Linked DNA regions of Homo sapiens: region 1 is linked to region 2. Evidence: fine-mapped QTL for protein levels in blood plasma. A gene starts in region 2. The other region holds a variant in brackets. All regions are shown on one strand. Distances are from middle to middle. Region 1 overlaps PCDH9 (protocadherin 9). Region 2 holds the start of PCDH9 (protocadherin 9).

Region 1 (5,383 bases), 79 kb after region 2:
ATGCTTTTTACTCTGAGCTGTACAGAGAGGCCTTAGGCACAAGTGGATTTCTGGAACCAGTGGATTTCATAAATTTGAACTAAATTGTATCAGGCATGGAGCGCTGCCAAATTGTAATTCATTAGTTCACTGCCTGGCAGAGTTCCGTTTCCTATCAACAGTAAAACATACAGGTTTCTTCTGGGTGTATGGAATGTTCTCACTTCCAAAAGGCAGATTATGCTTTTATTTCATGTAAAATTTACAATTCTTGGAACAAATAGGACACAAAAAGTCTTGTAAGTTCTTCAGCTATAAGAAGATACAATTTGGAGGAATTTGTAAAATACTATTTCAGTTTATCTCATGTAACTTGGGATGAGAGTTTTATGAGATGAGAAAGTATCCTTAAGAGTCTTTTAGTTCATTCATATAGTCTTGTAACAAAAAAAAAATTATCTCTCTTTAGGCAAAATGATGATGCAAGGACCCTGAGTGCATTTGAGCTTTGGTGCCTTAAAAATGAGTGTGGCCTAGAATTGGGTGGAGATGTTGCCTGCAGCTATACAAGGGCTGATACTTCCTGAGTCCTTTATGAGGCCTCAAAAGCATAAAGTCCCTGAGCATAATGATAAGTTTCTCCTCTCAATTATTATGTGCCTCAGTTTTGATAGATTGAAAAGATGAATTTTTTTCTTCCTCTAAGTATAGAGCAAAAGCTTTGCCAGCTTGTAGAAGGGATATATTCCCCATCCTTAGTCACTGTGTGAAACCAGGTGCTTGAATCATACAGGATCTTCTAACTCTAACAGTGTTGGATTTGGGAATGATGCAGTACTCTTAGATCCCCTACCTAAGTCAAAACTATGCCTATTTTTTTTCAGGCAAACAATAAAAGAAGTAGGAGCTCTGAGTTTACCAGTAGAACCCAATTCTGCTTTTTGCATCTCAGACACAGACACCCACAACCAGAAACCCATGAAGAGATGTGCAAAGGCTGTAGGAAATAAGGTCATGTTCTTTCATTGCATTAAACGTTAATATCCCTAAAGAGGAACAAATTGGGGGATACAAACGTTAAGAAACAATTCCATCCCTACTTATCAGTTTGACTTTAGTAGCAGAGAAATCACAATAAATGGCCCTATTTCAAGATAGTACAGAGATAAAACACATGAATGTGATTTTTTTTTAAAAAAGGAGCTATTGGTACTCATCAAATGATGAGTTTTGAATAAAATGGCCAAAGAGACCCTCAAGAAGAGGATGAGCCTTCCACTGGACTTTGAAAAAGATGGAGAATTTTTCTGGATTAAAATAAGTGAGGGCAGAGGGAACAGTATTTTAAGTATAATTCATATATGGTGCATGTTGAATCTAGTCTTATGATTAAGACTAAACTAAGGTTTACTTAGGCAGTGGATGGTGGGAAGCAATTGGAAGGCCTTGGGCAGTGAGACTTACAAAGTTGGTTAAACAAGAAAGCTAATCTTGTTGTATATGTAGGTTGGATTAAAAGGGATTAAAGACTAACTGTGCTTGCCAATAGTAGTGCAGTGGAAAGATACAGTCTTCCTGGAGTTCTATTAGATTAGGGAACACCACTAACACCTGTGTTTACAAAGGGCGAGTACAAGTTACTTTATTTGCCAGTGGTTTTATTGGTAAATTTAAAACAAGTTTATGTTAGTTGCAAATGGTTTTCTAGTTATTTAGAAATTATTGTTCTCACTTCTGGATATAATTATTGGCACATGTTTTGGATGTATTGTGTTTAAGAATCACATGACTTAAAATACTTATTATTAGGGCAAAACCAACGGATTGAATGAGGGAACACCCTGGGGCCATTGAAATGAATATGAAAACTAATGATTATATTTCTGATTAACATTTGTTTAAGATGTCCTAGTTTTCCATCCTTTTTACCTACTAATGCAGTCAAAATGTGGCTTAATAAAATTAATACTCTCTATTAATACTGATTTTTTCTGACTTGTATGGAAACCAACACTTTGGGCTTTTTGTATTGATTAAAACTCAAATTATGGGCCAGGCACAGTGGCTCATGCCTGTAATCCCATCACTTCGGGAAGCTGAGGCAGGTAGATCACTTGAGGTCGGGAGTTCGAGGCCAGCCTGGCCAACATGGTGAAGCCCCATCTCTACTAAAAATATTTTAAAAATTAGCTGAACGTGGTGGCATATGCCTGTTATCCCAGCTACTTGGGAAGTTGAGGCAGGATAATCACTTGAACCTGGGAGGCAGATGTTGCACGGAGCACTGCACGTCAGCCTGAGTGACAGAGTGAGACTCCATATCAAAAAAATAAAAATAAAATAAATAAAACTCAAATTATGTTTTATTATTAAAATATAAACTGCAAATATTCTTGCCTACATATGACCTGAAAAGACTTTTATTTTTGAAATTTTGGCTTCAAAAGTGAGTATCAATACCACTAAGAAGTGCTGTAACCTTGGGTCTTAGTTTTTTATTTGCAAAATGGGGATTAAAAATACCATATGGGGTGTTCATAACGATTAAACATGCTAATTTGCATGAAAGTGTTCGGCTAAAAGCATAGTTTTTAGAACTCAAATGCCATACAAATGTATTTTTATTACTACTGCCATTATTTAGCTTTAAAGTTAATAATCTTAGGGTTTTTTTTTATACAAAGCAAAAATCTTTAACGTAATTTTTCTTCATGGAAGTTGAAATCGTAATTCCTTTGTGATCTTAGGATAACTAGTAATCATAAAAAATCAAATAAAAATTCGTGACCATTAGCAGTATTTACAGTTTTATTTTCCCTTTAATGTTCCTTTCTTTTGTATGAAAGTTGATGTTTTGTTCAGATTTGTTTCCTTCCTTTCCTGTAAATACAATGATAATGATAATCACAATAATAAATATTTATCAGAGCCTAACAATGTGCTGGGCACTGCTTAAAATATCTTA[T/C]TGAATTCTCATCACACCTTTAAAGTAGGTACTATGACTATAAAGAATTCATAAAGAAAATGAGACTTAGAAATATTGAAATTGTCATATCCAACATGACACGCATAGGAAGTAAAGCAGAATTCCAGCTCAGGCCGTCAGCAACAGGAGCCCATGTCTTTGTTATATTATGCTACCTGTTTTCATACTGATAGGAAAGTTTTCAAGACTCACAAATTCTAGCAGGCCAAGTTTCTATCTTATCATTTTTTAAATGTAATTATTCATCTTAATATTTCTTCAAGAGACCTACAATATCATTGGCATGTAGTCGGTCTATAAGGGCTATGGTGCCATGTAGTAGGTTAGAGCAGGAACTTGAGAGCTCAAATTTGAGCATGAACCTAAAGGTAAGGTAAAAACCTTTGTAAGTTTTGCTCTATAGGTGCCTTACTGTAGTTGCAGCCTTGCAGTAAAAGTTTGTTCATTGGATGATTCCATTCCTACCTAGAACTGGCAAAATCATATAATAGTTTTCCATCATAGGAATCAAAAACTTAATATAATACATCTTTTAAAGATCAAATTAATGTCTATTTGTTAAATTCATCCTGGGACAGTTTTCAGTGGCTATATTTTTGCCATTTAACATGTAGACTGAAACCTTTAAGAATATGAAACATTCAAACCTCAATCAGCTTTTTCTCAGGCTTTTAATGGTTAATAAAAATGTCTTTATGACATGTGTAAAGAACATAGATAAGGACTTCAAAGGACATCGAAGAAAAACATGACTGAAATATAAAATGCTAAGTTTTAAATTTAAATGAATATGTTGATTGATGCAGAAAAGTGGTAATTAAAAAAAAGAAGTTGGCTTCTTTTGCCTTCATCTTCTCATTTAAAATTAAAACTTGCACGGGTGTTCTAACCAAATGCTGGTTATTGCATATAACAAGAAACAACATAATTACTTTTTTCTTTTTTTTTTCTTTCCTGTGACTCATTGCACATGTGCATGTTACTGTTACCTAGGAGAGGAACCAGTGTACATCAGCTGTAAAAATTCAAAGACTATAAGTATTCCTATAATTGGTCCCTAACTGTCTGGGGAAAGCTGCTTCACACAAAGAAATGGTCTTGAAGAAATCTTATTCAGTAGTATATTTCCTTCAAATCACAGAGGGGAAGAAAAATACAAATTCCAATTAATGTAATTTTGCAGGATGAAAAAAAAAAAAGACATGGAGGTAGCCTTAACATCTTAGATACGCTTATAAATTCTCAAAGCCACTGAGACTTAGTGAATTCTGAGGACTTAAAGTATGTTAAAAAGATAGACCTGCATTTAAATGCTGATCTCAACTTTTCACTGGGGACCACTAAGAAGCCTTTCAGAAGAAAAGACCGGGATCAGCAAAACATGAAATCGTTATAGCAGCCGACTTTCTGGGTCTGCTTTATATTACACTTTTGAAAAGGACATTTGTTTAAGGATATGATAGTTTTATCCTGCATGTAATGCATACTCATTTACTGGGATAGGGGGTGGGAAGAGAGGAAGGATGGAATGCTTTGACAGTGAGGTCACATACCAAAAACAAAAAGAGAACTGGCCCATACCCAAGCTATTTCTTAGCAATTTATCTGCAAAGGCATTCTCCTGATACTCATTGAGGGAATGTATAAACAGTGGACATTGTAAATGTGTCCATGAAATACAAAGAAACAATTTTGGCTATGGAAAAGGTAGTAATTATAAGACAGTCCCCAAATTCCCTGGCCTTATTCCAAATGTACTCAGTCTCAGTTATTATTTCTTCTGGTTTTTCAAAAAATATAACTGGATAGGGCACCTTTTTCAAGCTTATTAACACGGCTGTGAACATGAGTCAAAGAGGTCACTTTAATGTAAGGCAAGCGTAGACTCTCTCCAGGGACACTGCAGGCTGCCTGAACAGGAGAGCTGAAGACTGGGCCCTGACTGTTTAGATTGTAACCAAACAGCATGTTGTTGCTATTCTGGTAGATACACATTCCCAGCTTTATATCTGCGATGTGTACTTCCTCTCACATTTCCTCCTGCCCCACTTTCACCTCTGCTATTAAAAATACCCTAAGTAGATATGAATAATTGCAAAGATAAAACCATTTTATTTTTCTGAAAATTATCTCTCATTTGAAAAATGAAGGTCTGATAGAAAGTTTAAGCATCCTAGCATCCTATTTTCAGCTGCTGATAAGAAACTGAATAAAAAAGAAAGTTAAGCCTGAAAATGATGATTTCGGAAGTCTTTTCAGATGAACTGTAATACTTGCAGAATAAAAAAATGCTGTAGGCTACATGAGGGGAGCAGAGAAACAGTCCATTAGAGCATCTTTCCTACATTGTTTATCTACTTTGTTTGTATAAAAATGCTTCCACTTGCCTCTGGGCACCTATATAACAAAATTCAGAAC
Region 2 (5,368 bases):
TGAAAACGAGAAACTTGTGAGGATTTAGTACAGAGCTGGAGTCGGAGAAATGAAATGCACGGGAAAAGACGAAAATCACAGGAAAGAAAGTTGGAATCAGCAGAAAGTGCCTAGGGGAAAGGAAGTGTTCCACAGCTTGGGAAACAGCTGCCTGGGACTCCTTCCAGCCCCTCGGAAGCAAAGTTCGCAGTGAGGTGGGCTGGAAGCGGGTTTTGCAGCAGCCGCGAGTCCGGGCTCAGGTTTCCAGGCGCGGCTGGAGCAGAAGTGCAGGGACCGCCACGATCCACCGCCGCGGCCGGTCCCGCTCCGCTAGAGGAGACTTCGCACGCGCAGCCGACTGGCCCGGGCTGACCGAGGGGACCCAGACGCTGCCACTTTCTCTTTCCAAGGCAGTTTCCGTGGCTCTGCATGTAGGAAGTGCTCCGATTAATTTTCTTTCCGGTCTCCGCAGAGATTCCAAATTCTGCGGTCCCCACCTTTCGCTGTACTCCCTCTCCGCCCTTCTTTCCAATGTCCCTGCCAGCAAAAGCCTCTATTTGCAGCACCGGGCATGTTGTCCGTTTAACGCGCTCCGGGGATCTGCTGGCTCGTGCTCCCAACCCAGGGGTGGCTATACGTCTCGCGCCTCTGTTCCTGGGTAGACTCCCCCATCTGTGCATTTTGGCCCCTTCACTTAGCAAAGAGATGTGCGAAGTGTGCGCCTGGAGACGAGCCGCCTCGGTGACCCCCATCCGCCCGCAGCGGTGGCCCTGGTTCCCCGGATCCGCGCCCGCGCCCTGCGGGTCTCCCGCGCCGCCCTTGCCCGCCGGACCACCCGGGCTCAGAGGGTCGCTCGCTTTCAGCGCCTGCGAGCGCCGCTTCCGCCCGGGCCTGGGGAGCGCCAGCGCGTCCCTCCCACGCCGGACCCTGCAGAGCATGCTCAGTGCACCTCATGGAACCCGGCTCTCCTGGGGCCAGGATCAGATTTCCGGGTTTTCGCTGCTGCCGAGGGGGCGCGGAGGAGGGGAGGCTGGGAGACAGTCAGCGCCTTGTTCCGCGCTCCCTCCCTCGCGCCGGGCTGCGGCCGCCCGCGCCGCAAGATGCAGGCCAATCAGAGCCCGGGGGCGGGGCCTGGGCAGTCACGCCCTCCCTCTGGGCTTATTGAGAGTTATATCAAGAAATTCAGTTCAGAGAGAGGAGAGGGAGAAGGAGAGAGGGGCAGAGGGGAAGGGAGAGAGGGAGAGCACGCGAGACGGAAAGGAGCGCCTCAGAGTCTCTGAAGCACGCAAGAGATAACCGATTAGGAATTTTTCGGGCAACTGTCACCCGGATAGCTGTCAGAGAATCATCATCACCGCAACTCTGACGTTTCCTACAAGAAGTTAGAGACTTAAGCAGTATTGGCATCGGATGGAAATGGTATGCATGCTGCTGTGGAAAATATCCCTGAGCTGAAGAAGTGCAACTATGTGTTGTGTGTGCTAAATGCCCAGAAGAACCCAGACCCAGTGGGTAAGAGAGACGAAATGTGGAGAGAATGACTAACGACAAATCCGTGAATTTGTTCTCTGGAGTTGCTAATTTGCCAGCCCGAAGCAACACATTTTACAAGGAGGAAACATTTTGCTGCTTCTGATTTCTCCCCAAACTGGTGCTACCAGATGCATGGCTTTCTATGTGTTGGAACAAATCATTCCTAACTGCAGCATACTGGGAAAGGGGAAAGGTTGAGGCAACTAACGTAAGTGTAAAGTTTCGCATGCACAATTGTAAATTCTGTGTTTAGATGTGTCCTCAGTGTAGGCGAAAGATGCTTGTAATTGGGTAGACGGTTGGGGCAGAGCTCACCTACTCGGCTGTATCTGCATCCCTACCTGCATCACTCTGCCGGAACTAATCGCGGGCATCAGCTACTGTGCAGCCTAATGCAGATAAGATTAGAGCCTGAGAACTGACCAGTCCTACTCAAGTAGGTAGCTGCCTGGAGCCTTGCACCCATTTAAACTGCAGTTATCTAAGCAGAAGCCTTTTTACCTGCATGATTGGGTTGCAGTATTTATGTGTGGCAAATGTTACTAATATTCTAACCAGAGATCAGGATTAAGAAATTGCATTTTTTTTCTCTTTTATGTTCAGTAGAAAATATTGTGATGTTACATGGGAATGTTAGCTGCGTTTCACTTATATCTCGGCACTCTCTTCCACCTCTAGGAAAATGAATCCTATATTATTATACATTTTTAAAAGTTTTAATGTGTTTATGAATCCTAATGAGGATAATTTGTCAATATGGAGAAAGGAGAGCAAGCTGTGGGCAAGAAATCTGAAGTCTTGTTGTTGTGCTTTTAGGCAATGAGGATGTGTAGAGGCCGGTGACTATTGCTTCTGATGCCGCTGCAGCGGCATGTCCGGATGCTCGTTTCCCAGTAAGATTGTATTAGAAGGCAGTTGAAGAACTGGGAGGAAAGAAAAAGATAGCCTTTTTAGAAAAGATAGGTGACTCAGTGGGGCAGAGAAGAAAACACATTTGACATGTGACAAAGCAATTAGCAGGAACCGTAGCTAAATACTTAGTGTTTTTCACTTGCACCTGAAAAGACTGAGGGAGGTAGGTTAGAGGCTAGGAGGAGGGTGAGACAGGGGGAGGGGAAGAGGAGAACAAGAATGCATGTTTTGAATTAAACAGTATTCTGAAAAACAACGTGCGTGAATATAGGTAAAAATAGCAGCTGTCCTTAATTCAAAAGTAGAAAATTTTATTTTCTCCCGGCAAATGCAACCAGCAGGAGATATTTAGTGTTTTTCTCCACAGAGTAAACTTGCAAACAGTGGCAGAGCAAACTGCCATGTTTACTAATGTTCAGGGGAAAATGTGTGGTGATATTTTGTGACGGTGTGTTTTTATTTACTGAAGAATAATATTGTCTATACAATTGTGTTGACAGCGGCTGTCTCCAAATAAGTGATGAGATATAATGCATCCTCCAGTCCATGCACGCTTCCTCTTGCAATTTGTGCATCATTCCTCAGTGGAAACCTTTAAACCCTAAAATCCAGGAAAAGAAAATAAATACATTATCATGGACCTGAGGGATTTTTACCTGTTGGCTGCTCTGATTGCCTGTTTAAGGCTGGATTCCGCAATAGCTCAAGAACTTATTTACACTATTAGAGAGGAATTGCCTGAAAATGTGCCCATAGGAAACATACCAAAGGATCTGAACATTTCTCACATCAATGCTGCCACAGGGACCAGCGCCAGCCTTGTCTACAGACTGGTTTCTAAAGCTGGGGATGCCCCTTTGGTGAAAGTTTCCAGCAGCACTGGGGAAATTTTCACAACCTCCAACAGAATAGACAGAGAAAAACTCTGTGCTGGCGCCTCATATGCTGAGGAGAATGAGTGTTTCTTTGAACTTGAGGTGGTGATCCTCCCCAATGATTTCTTCAGGCTGATCAAAATAAAAATAATTGTCAAGGATACCAATGATAATGCCCCCATGTTTCCATCTCCTGTCATCAATATTTCCATTCCAGAAAACACTTTGATCAACAGCCGCTTTCCAATTCCATCAGCAACAGATCCTGACACAGGCTTCAATGGTGTACAGCATTATGAATTGTTAAATGGGCAGAGTGTTTTTGGACTGGATATCGTGGAAACTCCAGAGGGAGAGAAGTGGCCACAACTGATTGTTCAGCAAAACTTGGATAGAGAACAGAAAGATACCTATGTGATGAAAATCAAAGTAGAGGATGGAGGCACTCCACAGAAATCCAGTACGGCCATACTGCAGGTCACAGTAAGTGATGTAAATGACAACAGGCCAGTGTTTAAAGAGGGTCAAGTGGAGGTGCATATTCCAGAGAATGCTCCCGTAGGTACCTCTGTAATTCAGCTCCATGCCACTGATGCAGATATAGGCAGTAATGCTGAAATCCGGTACATTTTTGGTGCCCAGGTCGCCCCTGCAACCAAAAGACTCTTTGCTTTAAATAATACTACTGGGCTGATTACAGTTCAGAGGTCCTTAGATAGAGAGGAGACAGCCATTCACAAAGTGACAGTGCTGGCTAGTGACGGCAGCTCCACTCCTGCTCGAGCAACGGTTACCATCAATGTCACCGATGTAAATGATAACCCTCCTAATATAGACCTCAGGTACATTATAAGTCCCATCAATGGCACCGTGTATTTATCTGAGAAAGATCCTGTCAATACAAAGATTGCCCTAATTACAGTTTCAGATAAGGACACAGATGTGAATGGCAAAGTGATCTGTTTTATTGAAAGAGAGGTCCCATTTCATTTGAAGGCGGTATATGACAACCAATATTTGTTAGAGACCTCTTCTTTGTTGGACTATGAGGGCACCAAAGAATTCAGCTTTAAAATTGTTGCCTCTGATTCTGGGAAGCCCAGTTTAAATCAGACTGCCCTGGTAAGGGTTAAGCTTGAGGATGAAAATGACAACCCACCAATTTTCAACCAGCCTGTAATTGAGCTGTCAGTTTCTGAAAACAACCGACGTGGGTTATACTTAACAACTATTAGTGCCACAGATGAAGACAGTGGGAAAAATGCAGACATTGTTTATCAGCTTGGACCGAATGCCTCCTTCTTTGATCTGGACCGAAAAACAGGAGTTTTGACAGCCTCCAGAGTATTTGACAGAGAAGAACAAGAACGATTCATTTTTACAGTAACTGCCAGGGACAATGGGACCCCTCCCCTCCAAAGCCAAGCGGCTGTGATTGTTACTGTTCTGGATGAGAATGACAATAGCCCCAAGTTTACTCATAATCATTTTCAATTTTTTGTGTCTGAGAATCTGCCAAAGTATAGTACTGTGGGGGTAATCACAGTGACAGATGCAGATGCTGGAGAGAATAAAGCTGTGACTCTTTCCATTCTAAATGACAATGATAATTTTGTGTTGGATCCCTATTCTGGAGTCATAAAGTCAAATGTCTCATTTGATAGAGAGCAGCAGAGTTCCTACACTTTTGATGTCAAAGCCACTGATGGAGGACAACCACCTCGTTCCTCTACTGCAAAAGTAACTATCAACGTCATGGATGTCAATGACAACAGCCCAGTTGTCATTTCTCCACCGTCTAATACTTCCTTTAAGTTGGTGCCCCTCTCAGCCATTCCTGGCTCCGTGGTAGCAGAAGTTTTTGCAGTGGATGTTGACACTGGAATGAACGCTGAACTAAAGTATACTATAGTGAGTGGAAACAATAAAGGCTTATTCCGGATTGATCCAGTAACAGGTAACATTACTCTGGAAGAAAAACCAGCACCTACTGATGTGGGATTGCATCGTTTGGTGGTCAACATAAGTGACCTGGGGTACCCTAAGTCTTTGCACACGCTTGTGCTTGT

The links. A credible set is the group of variants that fine-mapping cannot tell apart. PIP is the chance, under the fine-mapping model, that this variant and not a neighbour inherited with it causes the effect. Protein levels are from the aptamer-based SomaScan assay of Sun 2018.
Region 1: its variant is the best candidate, but not a certain one, in a credible set for the plasma level of the PCDH9 protein (Sun 2018, PIP 0.69).

Annotation. Positions count from the first base shown.
Region 1 is chr13:67,146,983-67,152,365 of GRCh38, reverse strand. All of the region lies in intron 2 of PCDH9 (protocadherin 9), which reads left to right. Among named protein-coding and RNA genes, the nearest start is that of PCDH9, 81 kb to the left of the region's middle. The variant T/C (reference allele first, on the strand shown) is at 2,945.
Region 2 is chr13:67,226,132-67,231,499 of GRCh38, reverse strand. It overlaps PCDH9 (protocadherin 9), which reads left to right and starts at 1,164. Exons shown (of 5, transcript NM_203487.3): 1 at 1,164-1,720; 2 at 2,925-5,368. The coding sequence starts at 3,060. RefSeq lists a silencer at 754-893.